Linked DNA regions of Homo sapiens: region 2 is linked to region 1. A link means that fine-mapping ties the variant in region 1 to the plasma level of a protein whose gene starts in the linked region. Region 1 holds a variant in brackets. A gene starts in the other region. All regions are shown on their forward strands. Region 1 overlaps LOC105369896 (a long non-coding RNA gene). Region 2 holds the start of ADAMTS13 (ADAM metallopeptidase with thrombospondin type 1 motif 13).

The links. PIP is the posterior inclusion probability: the model's chance that the variant is causal. Protein levels are from antibody-based Olink assays in UK Biobank. Linkage for the fine-mapping came from a reference panel and not from the study's own genotypes, which makes the PIPs less certain.
Region 2: ADAMTS13 starts here. The variant in region 1 is fine-mapped to the plasma level of the ADAMTS13 protein (UK Biobank, PIP above 0.99).

Annotation. Positions count from the first base shown.
Region 1 is chr12:91,374,291-91,391,518 of GRCh38, forward strand. The region is part of intron 4 of LOC105369896 (a long non-coding RNA gene); the gene reads right to left. Among named protein-coding and RNA genes, the nearest start is that of LINC02823, 56 kb to the left of the region's middle. RefSeq lists enhancers at 6,602-7,435, 7,436-8,267 and a silencer at 14,262-14,556. The variant G/A (reference allele first, on the strand shown) is at 10,074.
Region 2 is chr9:133,416,250-133,424,249 of GRCh38, forward strand. It overlaps ADAMTS13 (ADAM metallopeptidase with thrombospondin type 1 motif 13), which reads left to right and starts at 6,118. Exons shown (of 29, transcript NM_139027.6): 1 at 6,118-6,299; 2 at 6,852-6,918. The coding sequence starts at 6,195. REXO4 (REX4 homolog, 3'-5' exonuclease) reads right to left here and starts at 1,761. Exons shown (of 8, transcript NM_020385.4): 1 at 1,371-1,761. The coding sequence starts at 1,595. RefSeq lists a silencer at 1,506-1,745 and enhancers at 1,856-2,075, 5,273-5,412, 5,643-5,692, 5,813-5,872.

The DNA.
Region 1 (17,228 bases):
GCCCTTTCTAAATGAGTACTGACACTCCTGTTTATGTACCTTAAATGAGCTTTGGTACAACAGAATCCTTTTAAGCATACTCTTATTCTAAAAATTTTTCTCTGAATGTAAAGAATTCCCATTTGTATTCATTCATGTGAATAAAATGGGAATAACAACACAATTATTTGTTAAATATCTATCATGTTCCTGGTACTGTTTTAAATGCTGGGCGCACAGCAGTTGGAAAGATAAAATACTTGCCGTTGAAGAGTTTACAATTTGTTGGTAGTGAGATGAGAAAAGCCAATAGAAGTACATAGACTATTTATCTAAAGCAGTCTCTCTCAGTGTGGTCCCAGTACTGAAATCTGTATCACCCTGACCCTGCATTATGAGGAACTTGTAAAAAATGAAAGTTACTGAGCTCACCCCAAAACTTTTGTGCCAGAAACTTTGGGTTGGGACTCAGCAGCCTTTGTTTTTAACAAGCCCTCTTGTTGCTTTTGATGCATACTCAAGTTTGATTGTTTTTGTTTGTGTTTGTTTTGAGACACGGTCTTGCTCTGTCACCCAGGCTGTAGTGAAATGGTGTGATCTCCACTCACTACAACCTCTGCCTCCCAGGCTCAAGCGATCCTCCTGTCTCAGCCTCGTAAGTAGCTGGAATTACAGGTGTGTGCCACTGTACCCAGCTAATTTTTGTATTTTTTGTAGAGATGGGGTTTTGCCATGTCTCTCAGGCTGGTCTTGAACTCCTGGGCTCAGATGACTTGCCCGCCTCAGCCTCCCAAAGTGCTGGGATTACAGGAGTGAGCCACCATGTCCAGCTTTCACAATTAAGTTTGAAAACCACTGAACTACAATATAAGACTTAAGTGTTGGCTTAGTACAGGGAGACTTGTTTAAAAAGGGCTAAGAGAGTCTTGTGGGTTCAGGCAAAACTTCTCAAAGAAGTTATTTCTAAGAGGAGGATTGCAGGATTGGTAGAAATTGGCTGGGCAAAGGGAAGGCGGGTGGGCAGAAATGAGAGGATATGCTGAATCAGGCTAGAGGTGCAAAATGGCAGAGCTTATTCAGAATTCAGGAAGGGTTCAGGGAGGCTGGAACTGCCATTGGTGGAGAGTAAGGAACAGTTAACACCTCTTATCAAAGAACAGGCAAAGCCTACCATCTATCACATCTGCAGGTAACAGAACAGTAAAAGTAACAGCTGCTGTTAGCAGTGACCAGTAGGTTTTTTCCATCAGGAAGGTCTGCAAGTCAGAATAAAGTGAGTGAGGAAAGAGGCACAGTTGTGCATGTGAAGTTAGAGGGCCTTTGGAGGTCTATCCATGCAGGAAGACAGGGAGTGAGCAGGAGGGACAACCCAGATAATACTAGGATTCTCCTCAAGAGGATGATGTCTTAGTCTTATTGGGCTGCTACAACAAAACACCATAAACTGGGTGGGTTATGAACATCAGAAATGTATTTCTTATAGTCCTGGAGTCTGGGAAGCCCAAAATCAAGGCACTGGCAGATTTGGTGTCTGATGAAGGCTGTTTCCTGCTTCATGAACAGTTAGTTTTTTTACTGTGTCCTCACCTGGCAGAAGGATGAGGGATGTCTTTAGGGCTTCTATTGTAAGGGCAGTAATCCCATTCACTGGAGATTTGATCTCACCTCCCAAAGGCCCCAGCTACAAATACTCTCATCCTGGGGATTCGTTTTCAAGAACAACAAAAAAATTTTGATGACATACAAACATTCAGAGCATAGCACTAGGCCCTAATCCAATCTGATTGGTGTCCTTATGGAAGAGGAGATTAGAACATACTAGGGGACACCAGAATATGAGCACACAGAGGAGAGACCACGTGAAGACACAGAAGAAAGCAACCATCTGCAAGCTGAAGAGAGAAGTCCCAAAGAAACCAAACCTGCTGACACCTTGATATTGGACTTCTAGCTTCCAGAATTGCGAGAAGATAAATTTCTGTTGTTTGAGTCATCTCATCTATGGTACTTGATTATGGCAGCCATAGCAAAGTAAGACACCATCCTCTTGAGGATGGATTGCATTAGCCTTATGCAATTAGTATGAATGTACTAGAAGATGATGGCATCACTCGAACTGAAATCCAATTTGTGAACATACCGTCTGACTCCTGATACTTCTGCGAAATAATATTAAGTGAAGAAAGATAAAATGCTAAGAGGGGAGTTCTAAAATTGTTTGGATTAGTGGCATTAGATTTCTCTTCCAGATCCCTTATTCCTATATCTGTCCTACAAATTCTAACACAGGGTGAAAGGTTGGAGATCAACATGAATATCTTGCATTTCTCAGCCTTTAGCATAGGGAATGCCTACACATTGTATATCTTCTGTCAGAAAATGTTTCTATATCCAGTTTCCCATGTTGTCTCCTTGCCTTTTGATATTAATGACTACATTTCTAGCAAAGTTTGCAGAAAGTAGGGGATGATTTCTATGGAGATTTAGTCCCAGAGGTTAATGGGGTTGTGCATTGTGTGAAGAGTAATGCCTTTCAATGGTGACAAAGTAATGCTCAACAGCTTTCAAGCCACTGCATCCATCATCAATTTGGGCTGTGGTTTGTTACTGACATGAAGTGTAATATAGGGTCCTCCAGAAAGCATCATGATTCCGTTTCCCACGGTAACCCCAGCAGTGCATGTCAGCCAACATCTGGCTTCACAGCTGTGAAATTTACAAGAAGCCTGTGCCCATGCCTCTTTTCAAAGGTAATTTGCTGAACAGCACATACGCTCATTTGACGGACACACTGTGGCACCACAGGCACCAACCACAGGGTGATGGGTCCTACAAAATACCCAATCAGCTATTTTATTATTTTAACCAAAGGAAGTATAACATTGACATTGCAGTAAGTAAAGGATAGTACAAAACTAGACCCTGACATGGACATCAGTACTTACAGCCAAATTGGAAAACCAGCTGATTAACAAAGGACTTTTCTGAAACAAACCAAGTCATTATGCACCAAGGCAAACTACAGTGGTCATTTTAAAAACTACAGTCGACTTTTAAAGACTCCACAGAAGGCCAGAGGTGTTCCAATAGCCGCTTACCCTCCCCCCACCAAAAAAAGGGTAAGGGATTTTCGCAGCATTTTTTTCTAATAGTCCTGTATTTAAAATGGATGTTTAAAAGCATTCGTTTGTCATTCTGTCAGTTGTAAGCAACAAATCATTCTCACTGAGAAATTACAGAGGCTTTCAAGATGCATGAAAGAGAAAAGAGTTGCCACTGGAAGGAGAGGGCAGCTGTAAATAAGACCCCTTAGGCATGCAGCTGTAATGAGGACTATTCACAGTGCCACTTCATGCCTTTGCTTTCTGCTCACTTATTCCGGACATATTGCTTAAGAGCTCTGTAATCTTTGGGGTTTGAAAAATTTATAGTTATGTGACCAACACCCAGCCCCACCTCCTTCTGGATTGTTCTACATCTAACTATACTACAGATTTTCACATGATGAATGATCTTGGATGCCAATGAAAAGGAATAGTTCACTCGGATCTATAGATTCCCTTACTTTGCTAAAATAATATGCTTCTACATCAAGTTTCAAAATGGTTTGCATTTTTTTGCCCTACCTATGTTTTCCCTCAGCTTCTTTCCATATTTTTCCTTAGTGGAAAATCTATAATAATAGGTTCTGCTGTTTTATTAAAAATATAAGGGATATTTGGATTGTGTTATTTTATTCTGAGGTCTATTATTACACTTTCCAGTATTTCCTTTTGAAAACATAATTAAGTTTATTCTTATAATATAATGTAAATACAATTATTTTCTCATTTGGGGAATATATTTTAGAGTGGCTATTAGCAGTATACAATATTACTTTTATTTGTTTATAAAAGCCAGAGGAATTAAGACAGTACAAATTCCACGTTCCATTTTTAATCTTCATAGTTCTTTGTAGGTTTAGCCACATTTTCCTTCCTTATTTATTTCATAATTTGAAAAACCATAATGACATCTACTTGATCTTGAATTGCAATAAAATTTTCATTTTTGTCATAGCATTTACCTCATTTTAGATAAAATTTGACTTAGATGGTTTGGTTTTAAATTGTTGCTGTTGTTTTCATTTGTAAGCTTCATGGTAGCCTGTACACTAAAAATTACAAATATCACTTGTCCTTGCACAAAGTTACCCTCTAATTTAAATATTTTCCCTCAAACTTCCCCTTATTCTGACTTGGGATATCCTCATGTCATTAAAGATTTTGATTTCCTAAAAGGTCCTCAAAATTTTGTAGAAAAGCACTTTATTCATTACTAACCTAGTATATACACATATGATTCTAATTTTCTTCCCATGTTTTAAGGCTTTTATAGTAATATTACACAAATGGTCTGCCTAACAGCCAATCATTTCCAAGATAAAAATGGGCCAAGAGACAAATGACAGGCAATTATTAAGCCTTTTAAGGAGAAACTGTTAAGCCTAGAAGAATATTGATACAAACTGACTTTCTGCACAGTGGACTCAACAAAGCTAACATAATTCACACCAGAGATTCTCTATGGGACCATAAATTAATCAGATTGAAAAGATGGCAACCCAGAAACACAATAAATTGTTCTATGGCATAGTAAGGCACCCTCCACATTCTTATTTTCAATGGCACAATAAGACACATACACACACACCTGACAAAGAATGAATAATTTTGGAAAAAGCTGCCATGTTTTCAGTTTAATCTAAAGACAGAGAGAGAAAGAGGAGGAGGAGGAGGATCCTATATTCACTCCTAACTGCAAGTTTGGAAGAGGTATGAGGAATTTGGGAGTGAGGCAAAGAGGCCACAATGTAAGGGAGAATTGAAATACAACTCGAAAGCCTGGCATCCATGAGGTGAGAGGAGAGCAGGAGATGCCAGAGTTACCCATTACTGACTTGGCTTACTTTACAGAACACAGGAAACTGTTGCTTCTAAGAAAATATCTATTTCATCATAAAAGAATTACAGCTCTTTTGTACATATGAATTTAGCCTGTTTTAATTTTGCCTGGCATTTTGGCTTTGCAAATCTTTAGGTATGAGTGCTAAAGTGTTATTCCAACCATTTCACTCTTTCCCAGTGAATGTTAGAACAATCACCTTTCGGTTAATAAACATGCAGTTTTTTACAACTACTATCACAAGTAACAGTTTAGTGTGTAGAAAGAATCAATGGTAAATTTTGGTGTTTCCAGTAGCTCAATATCTCATTTATCCTTTAGGTATCTGGCAAGCTGTCTTTCCCTTTTCTGGTCACCACTCCTCTGGGGATGTAGCCAAGTACAAAATTGCACATTTCTCCTCCCACAAGTGTCTCAGCTCCCACAGAAAACAAAATCTACATCAAGCATGTTTAAGATGATCTACATGTGAAGTAGAAAGGTTAACACACAAGAGGAGTAACAGACTCATTTATTTATTTATTTTTACCTTCAAGGAGTTTAAATACAAACACAGAGAGAAAACTGAAAATAAGCATGATTCTAGAATTTGTATTATTGTTATATATATATTTTTTAAGTAGATAAGCATAAAACTAAGGAATTGCTCAGATGACCAAGTCTGGAGCAAAAACATCTGACACAGGAAAGTGAGAAAATAAAATGGGGGCCTTGAGTAGAAAAATTTCAATGGGTTAATTTCTGCTGGCGTTCAACATGTTATGCCATAGCAAACAAATAAGAATCATGCTGGGTCTCAATTTATCAGATTCCTTTAATTTACTAAGACTGCATATTAAACTAAATTGTTAGCAGCTGGTTGACTACCTCAACCTAACTCAACTCCTGGGAGCAATTACAGAGCTTCTCAAAATCTGTCCCTGTGTGCATCAAATTGATGTTGGAAAGAAAAAGATACCTCTTTCTAAAGTACTTTATTTCAGCCTTTCAAATTCACCTTCTGAAACCTAGGTGACATTCCTTCTAAACACTGTATACGGTATTGCTTAAGACAAGGAAAGTTTTCCCCCAAAACTATTTGTGCTCCCTTCACTCTGGTAGAATTTTTGGTAAGTTCTTTGGCCTATGCCCACCATATACTAGGCCGCCCTTGCTCACAGAAGGCCACAGCAAACCCCTTCTGCAAGCCCACGATGGAATCGTAAATCTTTACAACTTATTGAAGTCTTCCAGATTTTTAAATATGCCCATGATCCAGACTTTTTGCTTGCATGTTTAAATGGTTGCCTGATGGCTTGCAACAAGAAGTAGAAAGGCATTTTTCTTAAAATAAGCAAACAACCATGGCAAATGAGGTCATATTCCCAAGCTTGAATAATAAATATTGCTAAAATCTACAACCTGAAACATATTTTAAGAATTAGACATAGATTTGGGTTTTTTCTTTCTTTTTCAGGAAGGGGTCTCCCTTGCTGCCAATAAAAATTGCTTTGTGTTGTAAAATTTGGGTTCAGCTTGTCTCCTCCTTATATAAGCCCAGTTGAATAGACTGCTGAGGGAAAATCAAAGTTTAAGAGCCTGGCTTTTCCCGTTTGGCAACTTTCATTTCCTGATAATATCGGATAATTAACAAATTGTGTGTTTTAATGCCCTGTCTCTTGAAGCGCATTTGGGAAAAATACTTCTTGTGCCCTCTGAGTAATGGCTTAAATGGAAGAACATGCTCAAAAGAATGCTTTTTCTCAATGCATGAAACACACTCAGCATTTATTATTTTAATTGCTACACATCATGTGTATACTCGTTCGTGTAATTATATACATATTTAAAGGGCAAGAGGAAAAGATTATTTTAGGACTCTATAATTCATTATGAGCAAGGCATTGAAAATTTCTAACTCAAGATGAAAATTCATAAAAATTCTTTGGCAAAAACACCTTAGTATTCTCAATACGGTAACTGACTTTTTTTTTTTTGCGTTATGAAATAACTAGATACTACCGTGCGTTGCTTTTGGATAAAAGGGGAATGCTGTTTCTTAGCCTTTCTGTCTCTTTACTAAATGGATAATTCAGGACTGGGAAATGCAGCTCTAAGTTTGTTGTTTACGAAAAACACATGCTAATGTAACAGCGTATGAGGAATTAAAGAGAAAATGTCAAACGCGCCTTGACATCCAAAATGCATTTAGCTGTTGGCTTTTACTACAGGGCCTTTCACTCTCCAGCCGACCCCCTCCAAGACCAAGTGTTTTTGCGTGTTGGGCTAAAAATAGCCAGCCAAGCCTAACAACTAGCTTCTGATTGGCTCAGAGCAAAGGCCACTCAGCCAATAAGAGCTTCTGGGAACAAAAGCAATTCTTTTGTGTGAGATACTCAACCCACGTCAAAACAGCTTCAGGCTGTAGAAATGATTTTGGTTGAGCTTTAACAAGGTAATAATGCATTTCAGCCCTCTGAAAGGTTTGAAGCGGAACAAAGGGAGTAGTGAAATCTACAAAACAAATGGAGCGCTCAAGGCTTTCATGGGATGAATCATCCGGGTGCCTGAGCTACAAACAGTTGCAAGCTCAGAAAAGAAAAAGCGCTAGGATTTTCTTTCTTTCTTCCTGAGATTTTAACTTATTTTTCAAGCGAAAAACAAAACAAAACAAAAACAAAAAACTAACGAAAAGCCATCAAAGGCGTTGTATCTTGACTATGCCCAAATTTGTTATTATGCTTATTTGATGATGAATAAAAAGCAATTCTTCCACGGTTCCCTTAAATCTCACAAAGAGAAAACAAATGTATGTGTAGTAGATAGTAGGTAGTAAAGCTCCCGAAACTTTGGGCTTTCGTTTTTGGGCACCAAAAGCAGCCCATGTTTTCAGAGTAAAGGCAGGTCTTGATTAATGCTGTGATAGTTCTCAAGGTAAGCAAATTACAGCAGCACTTGATTGGAGAAAAGCATTGAAGTTTTGGAGGTTTTGGCCACTTTCAAGGCATTGTGCCTCTAGGGGTCGCTGTTGGACAGCGGACGAACCTCTTCAGGGCATCCTTCCCCCTTTAATAGTCACTAAAAGAAGAAGCTTAGTAGGCGCCTTTCAGGTAGAACAAAAGGGAGTGGGGAGTCAGTGTTTGAGACCCTTGAGCATGGTTTATGGTCATCACTATGGGACAAAGCATCCCATAACAATGCAGATTACTTTATATGGAAATGAAATGCCATAAAGGACAAAATGTTGCTACAGTAACCACTGAAAATGTTACATAACACATAGGAGCTCATAGGCCATTTCATGGCCTTAAACTGGCTTTATTGTATGGAAAATAATTAAAAGATGATGTGGTGCTTTATAGGCTTCCTTTTTAGGAAACAGAAGGACCCACACTTTAACCTCTCACATAGGAAACCTGTATAGGTTACCAAGTCCTGAAGTTGGCAGAGAAATACAGGTCACAAACAGACTGTTCCCATGTTCTCCTCCCAGAAAACTATGGATTCAATGTAACTTTTTCCCTTGAATATAGCTTTTATGATAAACAATTAGTAAATGAATCCTTAATTAAGCTTTATTCCTGGTGTGGCACAACAAGACCTAAGAAAATCAAACATCTCAGTAAAACTGAAACATATTTTTATTATCTGATTGGTTATAATCAAGAAGCAATATTTCTGTAACAGTTACCTGTCTAAGGAAATGCATAATCTGTCATAAAATATTGCATTCATCAATTATTGGCCCCAGCTGCATTTATGAGCCTATAATCTTTTGCCATAAAACATGGATGTTGGGGAGAGGGGCTGTAGAGAGGAGTATCATATTCATTAACCAATACTACAGAAACTAAAAGTGGTAGTAGACCCTTTTTTTTCTATTGCATTCAGTTTATAATAGTTTCCTTTGACAATAATAATTATAATAATAAAAGAAAAAGAAAAATCCACCTAGGAATTGTATTCCTAAACAACGAAATCTCCAGATGACTACGGATATGTAGTTTTCAACATGCAATATCTGGAAAGAATGTGGGTTCTGTTTCTTTGCAGTAATTCTGTGTGTTTTATAGTCTTTGCTTTATCATCCTGGCCTAGAGCCAGTTAAAGAAATTCATCACCAAATGTGCAACAACCCATGAGAGGGAGTCCAGCATTGAGTTTGGAAATAGAATGAGGTGATTGTAGAGGAAGAGGCCGAGGCTGTCAGTGATGTATTTCCCTATCTCCCTGAGCCTGTCAGCTATTGAGTTGCTCAAGTCCCAGCCCTGACACCTAGCTGCCCCTGTGCCACCATCAGGATGCCCAGTGAGAGAAGAAGAGATGGGGAAATGGAAAGAAATCATCCTGTCCCACCTGCCCATGCAGTAAAGAAGACAAGGAAGAATTTGTAGAAGCCAGGGGTGGAGAGTCTTCCCCCAGAGGAGAGAGGCTCATTGGTCATAGGCCCTAGGGCAGTGGAACCACAGCCCTGGTCCTCAGATGAATGTGGGAGAAGGCAGGATGACTCCAGAGTTGAATATTAGATGTCAGGAGCCCGCAGAAGTGAGAGATGGCTACCAGGAGATGGGACCACAGCTGGGTTCGTTCCAAACATGACCAAAGATTCCCACCTGAGACTGGTACACAAGCACTTGAGAACTGCCAGATGTCAAGGGGATCTTCTGGATAGTGAAAAAATCAGAAGTGACCATGTTAGCCAGAACATCAGCTTCTTCCCTATTTTCATGAAGATTTAAGGCTCCCAGTCTCTGGTGCTATTTTGAAAAGGCTAGAGGAATTCTTGGCAATATGGTAGAATTGAGTCTTGGAGTTAAAACTACGTTAGATTAAGATAAATAATACAAAAGCCATTTCTAACATATCTGAGATTTGCATTATACAAAAGACCATAGTTTATATTTTCTAACAACTGTGTTATTTATCACTGCATTCGTTCCTCAGTACAATCCTATAATGGAATTAGGACAGGTGTCCTGATCCATTTATGCCTAGTGTTCCATTATTGGAACGCTAAGCATCTGGGAGTTATTTATATCCTGCTGCTCAAGGTCATCACCAAGATCTGATTGCAAAAATTCAAAAAATTGCAGCTTCAGGCACAAATGGGTTAATTAGCATTAACAAAGCAAGCCCTTCTGACTTTTATGTTATTCTTCACAAAACTCTCT[G/A]GGATTTGTCATTATTATATTAAGTAAACATTTTGAAGTTTTGTAAACACTAAGTTGAGGGACTTGGCAAAGATCATTCAGGCTCTGTCTTCTGTGCTGAAACAAAATTGATAATTGAGATACTTTTCTGAGTAATTTTATTATGAAATCCTCCTCTTATCAGAAATACCTGCATCATGTTTCATTGCTAATTTTGGAAACAGAACAACAGACCTTTGAGAGAGCACTGGCTTGGAAACTAGATTTTGAGATTAACTGTTATGTAAGGACTTAGGATTTTGCTAGTTACAGGTGCCAGGGAGAAATTGGTCATAGCTAGGAAGCTAAAAAATGGAAGCCAAGCTATATAAAAGACAAGATCCCGTAGCCATGCACTAGGTAAAGGGTATGGTCATGAGGACTGGAAGCCCAGTAATTCCAAAATTAGGTGGAAGTGATTTTACAAAAAAGTCTATAATTGTGACGGTATGGATAGACAAGAAATCAAGAATCCTGAGTAGCACAGCTAGAACTGGAAATGGTAAGTAGCAAATTTATAAAGTCTAGAAAGTTAGCAGCAAATCTTGGTTATGAATGGCCTAAGTCATATGAAATCCAGATCCTCACAAAGGGAACTGAAGCACCAAAATGGAGGAGGAGTCAATATTGAGGAAATAACTACTTCCTAGGAACCTAGTGTAGAAGTGCAAACAGCTGTGGATTCTCAGTTCTAGATCAGGAATCATAAGTGAGGGGCACTCCTACCATTGTCCTTTCATTCACATTTGTCAGCCACCAGGCATCACCAGTGAAACACAGCACCCTTTTCTGTGACATCTGGAAGCGGCCTTAATATCTTTCTCAATACAGTGACCCAAGAAACCACAGGAAATCAATTGGAATTACAGTTTTGGGTGTATATTAAGCAAACAACTTAATGTAGCCTATAGGAGAATTAGAGTCACAGTTCTATAGAGTAGGGTGACTATACGTCGCACATGTCCCAGAATGTTTTTTGTTTACATCTCTTGTTACAACATAATTAATAGCACCCCATTCACTCTCAAAGGTGTCCCAAGTATGGACTATAAATTATATTGTCCTTCTGTTTATGGGGAAAATAGTCAGACATCCAAGCCCTACTTCTGACTGACCATGTAATCTTAAGGCTATGTAAAACCACTGAATCAAGTTACTGAAGAAAACAGATACCCTGTATATTTGGTACCATGGAGATCACATTTGTTTTATGCATATGCATGATCTGTTTATGGATTATGGGTCTCAAATTCCCTTCTAAGAGAAATGAATACCTACATTCAAAACTAAAAGGGAGTGATCAGTGACATAAAAAATACTCAATGTGTTTTGTGATCCTTGAGATCAGAGGCTATGAAATGAAGTAAAGAATATTTTACTTAATATTGTTATATACATTGCAAGAAACATTACTTCAAGTTTGCTAATGTATTTGTTCTCTCAACAAACAATTACAGAATGCCTGTGATAAAAGAGCAAATGTGTGGGATAGGTACTGCCATTCCCAGTTTCCTACTCCCATAGCCGACATCGCTAATTGATCATGGAACTCTTTCCCTCTCAGAACAGGCTACACATCAGAATCCTTCTCCACAAGTCTTCTTGGCACCCACACCATTAAACAGAACTTATACTTGAGTTGAGCTCAAGTTTCTGTCCATCCCCAGCCCTGCCCTTCTGTCAGGTCCTGTACTAAATGGTAGAAGTACTGAAAAGCAATCAAATTATGATTGCTTTTGAGAGGCCTCTGGTCTACTGGAGGAGACAGACAAGCACATGCTTCATTGCAGGGATAGGACTAGGGGATGCTTGTGCACCAGGTGCCAGTATCATCGTTGTCTGCTGATGATGGACCTATATGCAAAACACTAGAAGGATTTTAGGTGAGCCTTTGTGCAGTCTAATGAAAGCTTGACAGATAAAAGATACTTACGTTGGAATTTGAAGAGCAGTTAAGGATCAGATCAAGAAGTAAGAGAGTCCAAAACAGAAGAAACAGCATACGCACAACCATTGTGAAATAAAGTGAGAGTAAAATCAGGTGGGGCATGGGAGTGGTGGCAGTGGGGGAGGCATGCTGGTGCAGAAAGGCTTGATTTTAGGGATTAATGTGAAATACAAATTAGAGGTATGTCCACATTGAAAGCAAATCAGTAGGAGTAAGACATTCACCAGTTATTTGCCTACGTGTAAAATTGTTTTGATGAAGTATTTTTTTAAAATTAATTAAGCTGTAAAGAATTCATTACATCAACCCCTCCCCTCCCCTCATTTGGCTTAATGTAGCTACAGATGCAGGTTCCAATATTTCTTGTGCAGTCTTTTACTTATTTCTCCTCAAACTCCTTTCTTAAATTAAGGGCAAACAGCCTTGTCTTCCCTGATACATCGGTCAGGTTTTTAGGTTTATTTGTTCTTTTATGTTTCTTATACTACAGCCATACTACATTTAGCTCCCATGTCTGCATCTAAAATCTAAAATGTATACTTGCTGTCTACAAAACCAAAAATGCTGTGGTATTTTAGTACGTGGAAGACTCAGTTCATGATTTTTAATGCCCAAATATTATTGAAAATGCAGCTTGTACGTTTTTCTACCCACAAGCTCTCCAGATCCATCTTTAGAGTATTTTATCAAGTTCCAGTCTCTGGAGTCATTCTGTAGTCTTGCCTGCCTTTTTCCATAAAATTTACTTAGCTCTGTGGACTGGTCCTCTCCTAGTTTTAATCCCTATTTGTCCCAGTATATATTTATCTAGATTGTACAGCTAGCTTTGGGTTCTATGCTACCTATTCCTCTAGTCTACCACTAGAATTATCCAGAATTATCTTCTATTGCACCTCAAGAAGCTCCCATCATCTCCATTGTCCCAAGTCCCATCCCAAGTACTATGGAATTTCCTCTCTTACCTCAAAATTGTGTTCTCTTTAGAAATGTCATTAGTTTTGTAGATCATAAATATCCTGAAATCATTGAGTGTATACCTCTAGGGTGACTATTCATTATTCTGGACTTATAATTTTAACCTAATTATAGAGGCAAAATATTTCTGAATCTATCTATACATGTTATATAGTTGTAGATCTAGAGGTAGCTTTTCTCAAGATAAAAAGTAAAAATAAATCTCAATTCTTTTTTTCAGGCAAAGGTTTCTCTTTTCCAGTTACAATTCTCTGATGACTATAACTGATATTTAAACCTCAGAATATTTTGGGTTCAGTTCAGATAAGCATCTACGACTTTGAATGTTATTTCAACATTTTGAGTACATAAATTAAAAATGTATGAACAAATAGCTCACATCAGATTTTTGCTCTGAGATATAATCATTTCCAGCAACAAAGTATGTGAATGACAAAAGCAGTATCAATTTTATCTGACCTACATGCTTATGAACAGGTTCTTTTCCAAGAGTTTATTTGTAGGTCATTTAGAAGTCCAAATCAGCTTTGCTCATTGAAACAGTGCTAAGCTGTGGTGAGGTGCTGAGGCCAGCCTGTCAGAGCCTGGCATGGAGTGCTAAGACTCCTGAAGGGCTTTTGTAGTAGACCCTGAGTTGGGGAACAGTGATAATGATACTTGACATTGATAATTATTCAGCTCTGTATGCTTTCCATGTGTTAACTCATTTAACCACAACCATATGAGACAGGCACTACTTTCATACGGAGTTAATGAGGACAAAGAGGTTGAATAGCTTATACACAGCACTCAACTTGCAGAAGTTGAATTTGAATCCAGATATTCTGGCTCCAGGGCTAGTGTTCTCAACCACCACTTCTGGAAAGGGGATGGGGAGGATGGGGAAAAGAAACTGCTCAGAACAAATGTGGGTGTGAGGGGAGATGACAACTGGAAGAAGGGATTGAGAAGAATCAGCTGTGAAGGAGGAGATGCTGATCATTAGCAGGGTGGAATTTTGCCTCCATTCCTTCCTCTTAACTTTCAAAATCTTCTTTATTATCTTTCATTATCATGTCCTCATTTAGTCTTCCATTTCTTTTCTTTCTTATACCACAGCAGATTCTACTACTGAAGGTGTATTGAGTAACAGGGAATATGGAATTGGAGATGAACTGGGTTAGGGTAACAATTGTCCTGGTTTGCCCCTGCCTTAAGGGGTTACTGGGAACACCAGATATCCAGTTTTAAGACCAGGAAAGTTTCTGGCAAATGAGAACTAGGTTGGTCACCTTAGTATGTGTATGACAGAACTGTTGTCACAAGACCCTGTACAAACACAAGGAGGAAGGGAAACGGGAACCAAAAAGAATTCCTCAGGAGCAGTGACCATGGGAAATTTGTGAGAGCTGAACTTCAAGCAGCTGGGATGGATTTTGAGCTTCAAACTCCCAAGTGCATTGAGAACATTAAGCAAAAGTTTCTGCTTGATCATTTCTCCCCAGTTCTTAAGTAGTATTTAGACAGATTAAATTTGGCCCCAAACTAGGTCATGAGGTTTTACAAGAGTGTGGAGGACAGTGGGAAGCTGCTTTTATCTGATGAAAGCAACTGGAAAAACAACACTGTTAAAAGTTTACTTGTCCCTACAGGAAAGAAATGTCTTATTCAAATTACCCAGGGCCACTTCATGTTCCTTCCTTGTTTAGTGATTGAAGGAAAAAATAACATTGCTATCAACTTAAATTTCATATACAGATAATAAATAGTTTTTGAAATAACTATTAAACATACTGAGAAACAGGCTGAAATACTCTCTAAAATTCTATGCTGTCTACTGTGTTCAGATTTACTCTATTTCTACAGTTATTAGTTATCAACTGAGTTACTGTCCTTATCTTCTTAAAACTATAATTTGTTGGGTTTATTTTTTAGTATTTAAAATATTACTAAATGATTTAAACAATTGTTTACCATTGTTGATTTTAAATGAGTATTTTCTATCATAAAAATACATTTTGAAGAGATTTACAATGAAAACATTTTCCAAAGTAGCAAAAATATAGCCTTTGACATGAATTAACTGCTTTTCCAAGCACCCTTATGAGACATATTTTTAAATTGTTTTTAGAGGTATTCTAAGTACATAAAGTTTCTGGAACACTCTTAATGAAACGTTTTTGAAGTTGAAAATATAATGGCAAACGAAGGCAGCCTGTCTAGATAAAACTATAAAAAATAGTCAAGTAACCTTTCCACCATGTATAATCAAGACACCTTATACCTTATTATATACCTGATATAATCTATTATATTTAAAATAAAATGCTTCAATTCTTCTAGAAAAAAAAATTTGAAATGCCCATTAATTCATGAGTTTATCATTAAAATTCTATATTACTATGTGAGGCAAAGCCAGATTTTCTACTGATTTCTTTTGGCACCAAAAAAGAAATAGAAAGAATAAGATAATAAATCCATAGGATCCTCAACTTAAATCATGGTTAATTTATTAGTCAAATCTTGGTGCAATGACAAACAACTCTAAGTTATCAGTGGTTTATGACATCTTAGTCTGTGCAGGCTGCTGCAACAGAATGCCATAGACTGTGTGGCCTACAACAACAGAAACTTTATTTCTCACAGTTCTGGAGGCTGGGAAGTTCAAGATCATGGCATTGGCAGATATTGATGTCTACAGCCTTCTTACTCTACCCTCACGTGGCAAAAGGGTTGAGGTGTCTCTCTTGGGTCTCTTTTAAATGCACACTAATCCTATTTAAGAAGGCCCTGACCCCTTGACCTAATCACTTCTCAAAGTCCACACTTCCGAATACCATCACCTTGGGGGTGAAGATTTAAATTTTTGGGGGGACATCAACATTCCACCCTGTAGCATAACACATTTAGTTTTTGCTTATATTATATGAGAATGTGAACTGGCTTCATCTCTGCTACGCTCAACAGGACTCAGCTTGATGGTATTCTTCGTGTCTTACCATTCTGGGATCTAGACTGAAGAAGCACCCACTCTCTGGAACATGCTATTTTCATGGTGGAAAACAAAAACTCAAGCATGGACAGAGCCTAATGCAAATACTTGATGCTATATGTCACATCATCCCAGCCCACTTCATTTTTTAAATTAAATCTAAAATTTGTTATGGGTACATAGTAGGTGTGTATATTTGTGGGGTACATGAGATATTTTAGTACAGGCATATAATGCATAATAATCACATCAGGGTAAATGGGGTATCTATCACTTTAAGCCTTTATCATTTCTTTCTGTTACAAATATTCCCATTATATTCTCTCTGTTATTTTTAAATGTGCAATAAATTTTTGTTGACTGTAATCATCCTGTTGTGCTGTCAAATACTAGGTTTTATTCACTCAATCTAACTATATTTTTGTACCCGTTAACCATACCCACTCCCCCCACTCACCATTCATAGCCTCTGGTAACCACCATTCTACTCTCTATCTCCATTAGTTAATTGTTTAAATTTTTAGCTCCCATAAATGAGTGAGAACATGTGAAGTTTGTCTTTCTGTGTCTGGCTTTTTTCGCTTAACATAATGTCCTCCAGTTCCATCTATGTTATTACAAATGAAATGATCTCATTCTTTTTTATAGCTGAGTATTCTGGTTAGTAATTCCTTGTCAGGTGAATAGTTTGCAAATATTTTCTCCCATTCTTTGAATTTTTTATTCGCTTTGTTGATTATTTCCTTTGCTGCACCGAAGCTTTTAACTTGATGTGATCCCATTTTTGTTTTGGTTGCCTTTGTTTGTGGGGTATTACTCAAGAAATCTTTGCGCAGTCCAATGTCCTGGAGTGTTTCCCCAATGTTTTATTTTAGTAGTTTCATAGTTTCAGGTATTTGATTTAAGTCTTTAATCCATTTTGACTCAATTTTTGTATATGGTGAGAGGGGTCAGAGGTCAATTTTCATTCTTCTGCATATGGATATTCAGTTTTCCCAGCACTATTTATTGAAGAGACTGTCCTTTCCTCAATGTATGTTCTTGGCTCCTTTGTTGAAAATGAATTCACTATAGATGTATGGATTTATTTTGGGGTTCTCTATTCTGTTTCATTGGTCTATGTGTCTGTTTTATGCCAGTACTATGCTGTTTACTGTAGCTCTATAGTATGATTTGAAGTCCGGTAATTTGATTCCTCCAGTTTTGTTCATTTTGCTCAGAATGGCTTTAGCTCTTCTGGGTG
Region 2 (8,000 bases), not on the chromosome of region 1:
GAGTGAGAACTTACTCGTTACTGAGGGGAGGGCACCAAGTCATTCATGAGGGATCTACCCCCATGACCCAATACCTCCTATGGGCCCCATCTCCACCACTGGGGATCACATTTCTTTTTTAAAAAAACTACTTTTTACTTTTATTTAGAGATGGAATCTCACCATGTTGCCCAGGCTGGACTTGAACTCCTGAGCTCAAGTGATCCTCCTGCCTGGGCCTCCCAAAGTGCTGGGATTACACGTGTGGGCTACTCGGGAGGCTGAGGCAGGAGAATCACTGGAGCCCAGGCAGCAGTGAGCTATGATCCTAACAGGAGGTAGCTCCAAGGGAGCTCCAAGGGATGTGGTAAGAATGTATGAGTGACGCACGTGGAAGAGTGTCTAGGAGAGAGCAGGCAACCTCTACAGAAGTGCAGGTCACTAGGGAGACAGCAGGTACAACACAGCCTTAAAAGCATGGACTCCAGAGTCAGCCACCTGGTTCCCAGCCGCAATCTTAGATGATCTATTTAAACTTTTCCAGCCTATTTCCTCATCTGTACAATAGCGATGATGGAAGTGTCCACCTCACAGTCTTATTGTGGGGATTGCAACACGCATGGCATAGAGCACATGGCAGAGTGCACATTTTTAGGAGCTCAATTAGTATTTACTTCAAGACCGTAAGTGTCGCTAGAACCCCATCACATGTCTGCTATCTGCTTTTCACTTCTACACAGGAATCTTCTTTCTCCCTGTCTTGCTACACAGACCAGTGTGTTCTTTCGTTGTTGTTGTTTGAGATGGAGTCTCGCTCTGTCGCCCAGGCTGGAGTGCAGTGGCGCGATTTCGGCTTACTACTGCCTCTGCCTCCCGGGTTCAAGCGATTCTTCTGCCTCAGGCTCCCCGAGTAGCTGCGACTACCGGCGCGCGCCATCACGCCCGGCTAATATTTTTTGTACTTTTTTAGTAGACACGGGGTTTCACCATGTTGGCCGGGCTGGTCTTGAACTCTTGACCTCAGGGGATCTGCCCGCCTCGGCCTCCCAAAGTGCTGGGATCACAGGCGTGAGGCCCCGCGCCCGGCCTGGTTTCGGGATTTTAAGCTAAATTTCTCTTTGTAAAATCCATTCTAGTTAGTTCATTATGCAAAAGGTACAAGGGTTTATCTTTGCTTTTTTGTACTTGAAATAATTCTTTCATCAATTTCTTTCAAGCAAACAAGTTCGAGACCTCCCTCAACAGGCCACCTTTCTTGTGAAAAGCTGTTTACAAGATTTCGATTCAAATCTGCCTTTACAGGTCTTTTGGGGCTACCCAAGTCTTTCCCTCCGTCGCGTTCTGCGGGAATGAGCTGCGCAGCGCTCCGCCCGGGCCCCCTCAAGCCTCACCTCTTGCAGCGCCTTCCAGTTTTGAGAAAAGTCTTCTGGTGCCTTTGGAGGTCGCACCACAGCACCGGGGCCGCTTGCTGGCTTCTTGCTTACTTCCCGCGCCTTGCTTTTCCAAAACCTTTTTTTCTTCTTGTTTTTCTTCCGAGTGAGCGTCTTGACAGGACCCGGCTTAGCCACGGGGCTGCTCGGGGCGCGCTTGGAGGCGGGGACCTTCGCCTTCCCCATCCTGCTGCCGTCCAGCGCCTGGGCCGGCGGCCACCCGAGACCCCGGCCTCCCCGGGCCCGGCGCCCTGGCAGCACAAGCGCCTGCCCAGGCCAGGCCGAAACACACCCACCGCAGGGACCCCGTCCAGGAAAAGACTCCGGAAGAGACCCCGCACGCGTTGCGCATACCTCAGCACGCACGCTCCAGTCCCCGGAAGCGCTCGTCTCTCCACAACCGGCTGGAAACCGGATCCCTGCCTCTGGTTCCGCGCAGCCTGGGCGGTTCACCCGCACGGGACTTGGGCCGCCGCCTTAGCCAGCGGCATCCGGGGTCATCGACCTCGAGTTTGACTGGGGCAAGCCGAGGACCTCCCCAAGATCCGGGATGGGGATGAGAGATGCGAACGCCGGAAGGGAACTGGGGGGCCGCTGTGTGTGTAGCACCTGGTAGGGCAGCTGAGCTGGGGGCACTGGGCGGTGGGGCTAGTGAGAGCCGGGCTAGGTCGCTCGCCTGCGTCCTGGACTCTCGAGCCTTTCCCGCCTTGGGCTGCTCCTTGCTCAGCCTCACAGCGGCTCATCTTCCACGTACAGTGGGGAAACTGAGGCCCAGGCACCGGGAGGAGTTCCTGCCAGTTCACTCTGTAGCAGGACGAGCCGCAGACAAGAACCCCTCAGACACCGAATTGTAGAAGGAAAGGGCTTTATTTAGTGGGGAGCATCGGCAGACTCACGTCTCCAAAAACCGAGCTCTCTGAGTGAGCAATTCCTGTCCCTTTTAAGGGCTTACAACCCTAAGGGGGTCTGTGTGAGAGGGTCGTGATCGATTGAGCAAGCAGGGGGTACGTGACTGGGGGCTGCATGCACCGGTAATCAGAACGCAACAGAACAGGACAGGGATTTTCACAATGCTTTTCCATACAATGTCTGAAATCTATAGATAACATAACCGGTTAGGTCAAGGATTGATCTTTAACCAGGCCCAGGGCGCGGCGCCGGGCTGTCTGCCTGTGGATTTTATTTCTGCCTTTTAGTTTTTACTTCTTTATTTGGAAGCAGAAATTGGGCATAAGACAATATGAGGGGTGGTCTCCTCCCTTACTTCTGCCGCCTGGGTTCAAGCGATTCTCCTGCCTCAGCCTCCTGAGTAGCTGGGACTATAGGTGCACGCCACCACTCTCTGCCAATTTTTGTATTTTTAGTAGACCTGGGGTTTCGCCACGTTGGCCAGGCTGTCTTGAACTCCTGACCTCCAGTGATCCATCCGCCTCGGCCTCCCAAAGCGCTGGGATTACAGGTGTGAGCCACCGTGCCCGGCCGGGAGTGGGTAGATTTGATGTGCGTGTGTAACAGGCAGAGGTTGATGGAGTAACAGGGAAGTGAGGCTCCTAGGATTTTGGTCTGAGCAATTGGGTGTGGCCATTTATCATCTCAATAAATGTCTGCGGGGAGCAGGGTGAAGTATGGGGGTGGAGCCATGAGCTCCTTTTCACACTTGCTGAGTTTGAACGGGCCGTCAGTCACCAAGGAGAGACGTCTAATCAGCAGCAGGATATAAGATTCCTAAGCTTAGGGAAGGGTCAGTGCTGGAGATGTAATTTGGAAATCGTCAGCACATAATTAGTGTTGAAACATGAACCTGGGTTAGTTCATCCAAAGAGAGAGTACCAATATAGGGAGTGAAGGGTTAAGACCAGATAGCAGGTGCTGGGGGCTCTCCAGGGGCGAAGCAGCAGAGGAGGCTGAGGGGGAGCAGTCAGTGCAGTGGGAGGAGAAGCGGATGTGAGTGGCATCAGAGAATCCAGGGGGAGAATAAACCACATCAGATGCTGCTGAGAGGCTGAGAAGGACGAGGACAGAGAGATGGGAACCAGATATGGCACTGAGATTGTCAGCAAGTCCACCGAAAAGGGTTTTCTTTTTTTTTGTTTGTTTTGAGACGGAGTCTTGCTCTGCTGCCCAGGCTGGAGTGCAGTGGCGTGATATCGGCTCACCACAATCTCCACCTCCCGGGTTCAAGCGATTCTCCTGCCTCAGCCTCCTGGGTAGCTGGAACTACAGGTGCACGCCACCATGCCCAGCTAATTTTTTTTTTTTTTTTGAGACGAAGTTATGCTCTTGTCGCCCAGGCTGGAGTGCAATGGCGCAATCTCGGCTCACCGCAACCTCCACCTCCCGGGTTCAAGTGATTCTTCTGCCTCAGCCTCCCGAGTAGCTGGGATTACAGGCATGTGCCACCACGCCCGGCTAATTTTGTACTTTTAGTAGAGATGGGGTTTCTCCATGTTGGCCAGGCTGGTATGGATCTCCAGACATCAGGTGATCCTCTCGCCTCAGCCTCCCAAAGTGTTGGGATTACAGGCGTGAGCCACCGCACCTAGCCTAATTTTTGTATTTTTGAAAAGAGACGGGGTTTCACTATGCTGGCCAGGCTGATCTCGAACTCCTGACCTCATGATCCGCGTGCCTCGTGATCCACCTGCCTCGGCCTCCCAAAGTGCTGGGATTAAAGGCGTGAGCCACCACACCTGGCCCAGGTTTTCTTTTTAAAAAAGGAAAAAAACTTTGTTCCAGCAGTTTGTAAACCAGGGCAATGCAGCCTTCTGTACAAAGGTGCATTCCAGGGAACAAAGAGAACAAAGAAAGAGGTCGTCTTTTGTAGAGAACTTCCTGCCCAGGTTCCCACTTTGGTCCACTTATGCAAATGAGGAAGGCACACTTGCTTAGTTCTGATTGGTTAATACTTGCTGAGTTCAGATTGGTCGATGCAGGTCACAGTCGATGGGTTGATTCTGGCGGCATAAACAGGAACAGATAGCTGTGAAACCATCCCAGAGTTAAGTGAGAGTGGGGGCTTTCCAGGAACGCAGAATGTGTGTGTGACCCTAGTCAGCAAATGGCTGCTAGGTCCTACTTTGAATTTAGGCCCAGTTAGTAACTTGGGATCCATCAAGAAGGATTGGCTCTTTCAGGGTTCACAAAGTTATTGGTGACCTTTTAAAGATCAATTTCAATGGTATGTGGGAATTGAAGGCAAGGAAGTGGAGATAGCCACTGAAAATAATGTTTCTAAGTTCTTAAAGACAGCCAGAAACAGGGCTATGGCAGGAGGACAGTGTGGGTCAAGGGAAGGTTGTTGATTGTAATCAAGAGACACCAGAGTGTCTGGGCTTGGTGGCTCATGCCTGTAATCCCAGCACTTTGGGAGGCCGAGGCAGTCAGCTCACCTGAGGTCAGGAGTTTGAGACCAGCTTGGCCAACATGGCGAAACCCCACCTCTACTAAAAATACAAAAACTAGCCAGGCGTGATGGCGGGTGCCTGTAATCCCAGCCACAAGGGAGGCTGAGGCAGGAGAATCACTTGAACCTGGGTGGCGGAGGTTGCAGTGAGCCGAGATCGTGCCACTGCACTCCAGCCTGGGTGACACAGCAAGACTCTGTCTCAAAAAACAAACAAAAACCAAAAAGAGACAGGAGAGTCATTCATGCTGATGGAGTGAGCCAGGTACCAGGATCTCGATATCTAAGCATGCCCCCTTCTCCAACAGCCTCCTTACCTTCCTGCATGAAAGCACACCCTTCCCTCCAGTCCCCCATTCCTTTATTCTGCTGTATTTTTCTCCATAACACTTACCACCTTTGAACATACTACATATACAACATGTGTCTGTCTAGCAACTTTGCTGTCTGGCTCTCTTCCCTAGAATTTAAGCTGTGAGAGGCCGAGGCTGCTGTCTGCCTGGCTTGGGGCTGCTTTCCTGGTGTCTAGCACAGAGCCTGGCCTGTTTCAGGGGCTCAGTGAAACATTTGTTGGCTGAAGGAATGAATGAATGGCTCTAGCAGAGGGGCAGAAACTAACGATGCAGGAGGAGAGAGCTGGGAAGGGATCCAGAGCCAGGGCCTGGCAGGAAGTGTAGGTGTGTCCTCCCTGATCGCAGAGGAGGAGAGAGGCTGCACTTTGAGGGGTGGAAAGACAAGGTGAATCCCCCTGCTGGTCATCAGCTTGTGCGGCTCTGTGGGTGTAAAAGAGTGGTTTGGAGCATGTGAAGTGAGTCTTCCAGGAGATGAAGGGGATTGCCAGGCCGTTTGTGATGATGCTGAGATCTGGTGCCGTGCAGCCTGCTTCTGCGACTCTCCTCATCAGGCGCAGGCACAGAGTAGGTGGAGAGTTGAGCCAGAACCACGATGTCTTTGGCACAGCCTCTCATCTGTCAGATGGGAGCGGGGACCCCGGAGAGGGAGTCAGCCGAGGTCCTGGCATTCCTTGTGAACCCCCGTCTGTGGGTTTCTGGTCCAGTGTCCCTTCTCCAGATTAGATGGCTTAGGCCTCCTCTAAGGGGGTGGGCGTGCACATCCGGAGAGCTGTCTGGTGTGCAGGACTGGGCTGCAGGTTACCCTGAACTGCAACCATCTTAGAGCAAGGCCCAGCTTGCAGCAGGAGGAGCTGCAGGCCGCCCACCCTAGCCACGGCCCCTGCCCTGGCAGGAAGCTTCCAAGAGTAAACACTGCCTAATCGTCCCGCCCAGTAGTGAGCAGGCCTGTCCCATTCCATACTGACCAGATTCCCAGTCACCAAGGCCCCCTCTCACTCCGCTCCACTCCTCGGGCTGGCTCTCCTGAGGATGCACCAGCGTCACCCCCGGGCAAGATGCCCTCCCCTCTGTGTGGCCGGAATCCTTGCCTGTGGCTTTCTCCTGGGCTGCTGGGGACCCTCCCATTTCCAGCAGGTGGGCTCATTTGCAGGAGCGGGGGTATTCTGGGAGCCTCTGGGTGGGGTATTCTGAGCTACCTGGGGCGAGGGGAGTGCCAAATAGCTGACTACATCAGCTTTGGGGTTTGCGCTGGGCAGGGGAGTCTGTACTTGGGGCTTTGGGGGATGAAGTGTGCTCACTGAAGAGGGAGTTGGTGTCTCAGTACGACCTGCTCATTCGGTGAAGCTGAACAGACAGATACTAGTTTGTCCCAAACTGTGTAGGTTGCTCTTCTCTGCCTCTCCCTTCCTCTCCCTGTCTCTGATTTCCCCCTCTCCTTCTTGGTTGGCCTCACCCACCTCCTGCCTCCTGTCTCCCTCTTCATCCATCTCTTTTTGTTCTTTTTTCTTTCTCTCTCTCTCTTTTTTTTTTTTTTTTTTTTTTTAAGACATGGGGTCTTGTTATGTTGCCCCAGCTGGTCTCAAACTCCTGGACTCAAGTGATCCTCCCACCTCGGTCTCCCCAAGTGTTAGGATTACAGGCCAGAGCCACTATGCCCGGCCCCATCCATCTCTTTTTGTCTTGCAGAGTTGTCTTCAGGCTTTGGAGCCACAGGCCGTGTCTTCTTACTTGAGCCCTGGTGCTCCCTTAAAAGGTACTTGTCCTGGTGTCTTCTCTCCCGGGGGGAGTTTCTCAGGACTTTCAAGGGGTATCTCACCACTGAGTCAGTGGTCTGGGATTTTTGGTGGATCTGGAAGGAGAAGGTCAGAGAAGCTGCTGTCAACCCTGTTAATTAACTCTGTTACTTCCTGCCAAGTTGATATAAGCTGGTCTGGGTGTTCCAGCCAGGCCAGGGTTCTCACCCTAGCTTCTGTTAAATATCACAAGGGAACGGTCACCGATTGGCTGGCCCCTCCTGCCCCATGGCCTCTGCTGAGCTGGCTGATTTTCAGGAGCTCTTGTGGTTTCTGACCGTGGATGTAAATATTTATTCCTTCTGTGGGAAACAAGATAGGTACTGGCTCAGGCTACCTCCTAAGGCCATGGATTTCCTTATGATAAAGGCCTGTCCCCATTGCCCACAGGCCCATGTCTGTGACCTTCTCCGGTGCGAGCCCCCTTCCCAGTAGGGCCATTGGCAACTTGACTAATGGCTGATGGGGGCCAGAGGCAGGTGGGCTAGTGGTCAGGGGCAACAGGAGGGCAAGGCCCACTTTGTGACCTGGTTCTTTGTGGTCTAGGCCAGAGGCACACTGACCAGTGCCTGGGGCCACGCTGGGGGCTGGATGCAGCCGACGCTGTCTGGGTATCCCATAGCCTGGGTCCTTCCAGCGCTGCCGCTCCTGAAAGGCTGGGAGATCATTGCCCAGGGTCCCTGACCCTCTAAGGGCTCCCTTGGGAGAGGACAGTGAGGGCTGGCCTGGGCCCCTGCTTCCCAAGAGACCACTGGGCTCCACTCGTGTTCAGTTTCCTGTCGGGGTCCATGATGTTACTTGTGAAACACCTGTGCCCAGAGCAGGGTCCAGGAGGCAGGGCAGGGGCTTTCCCCTTTGGGCAGAGCCACCAGGGCAGTGGGAATCTTGTCTTGATGGGGTGACCCAAAGCACACAATAGCCCAACAGCTCCTCCTGGGCCCTGCCCTTTGCGTGCCTAGTCACTAATGGGGTCTGGCTCTTGGGGTGGGGGTGACACGCAATGTCTTGACTTCGGAAGGCCATCCTTCCAAGACCTGCCAGC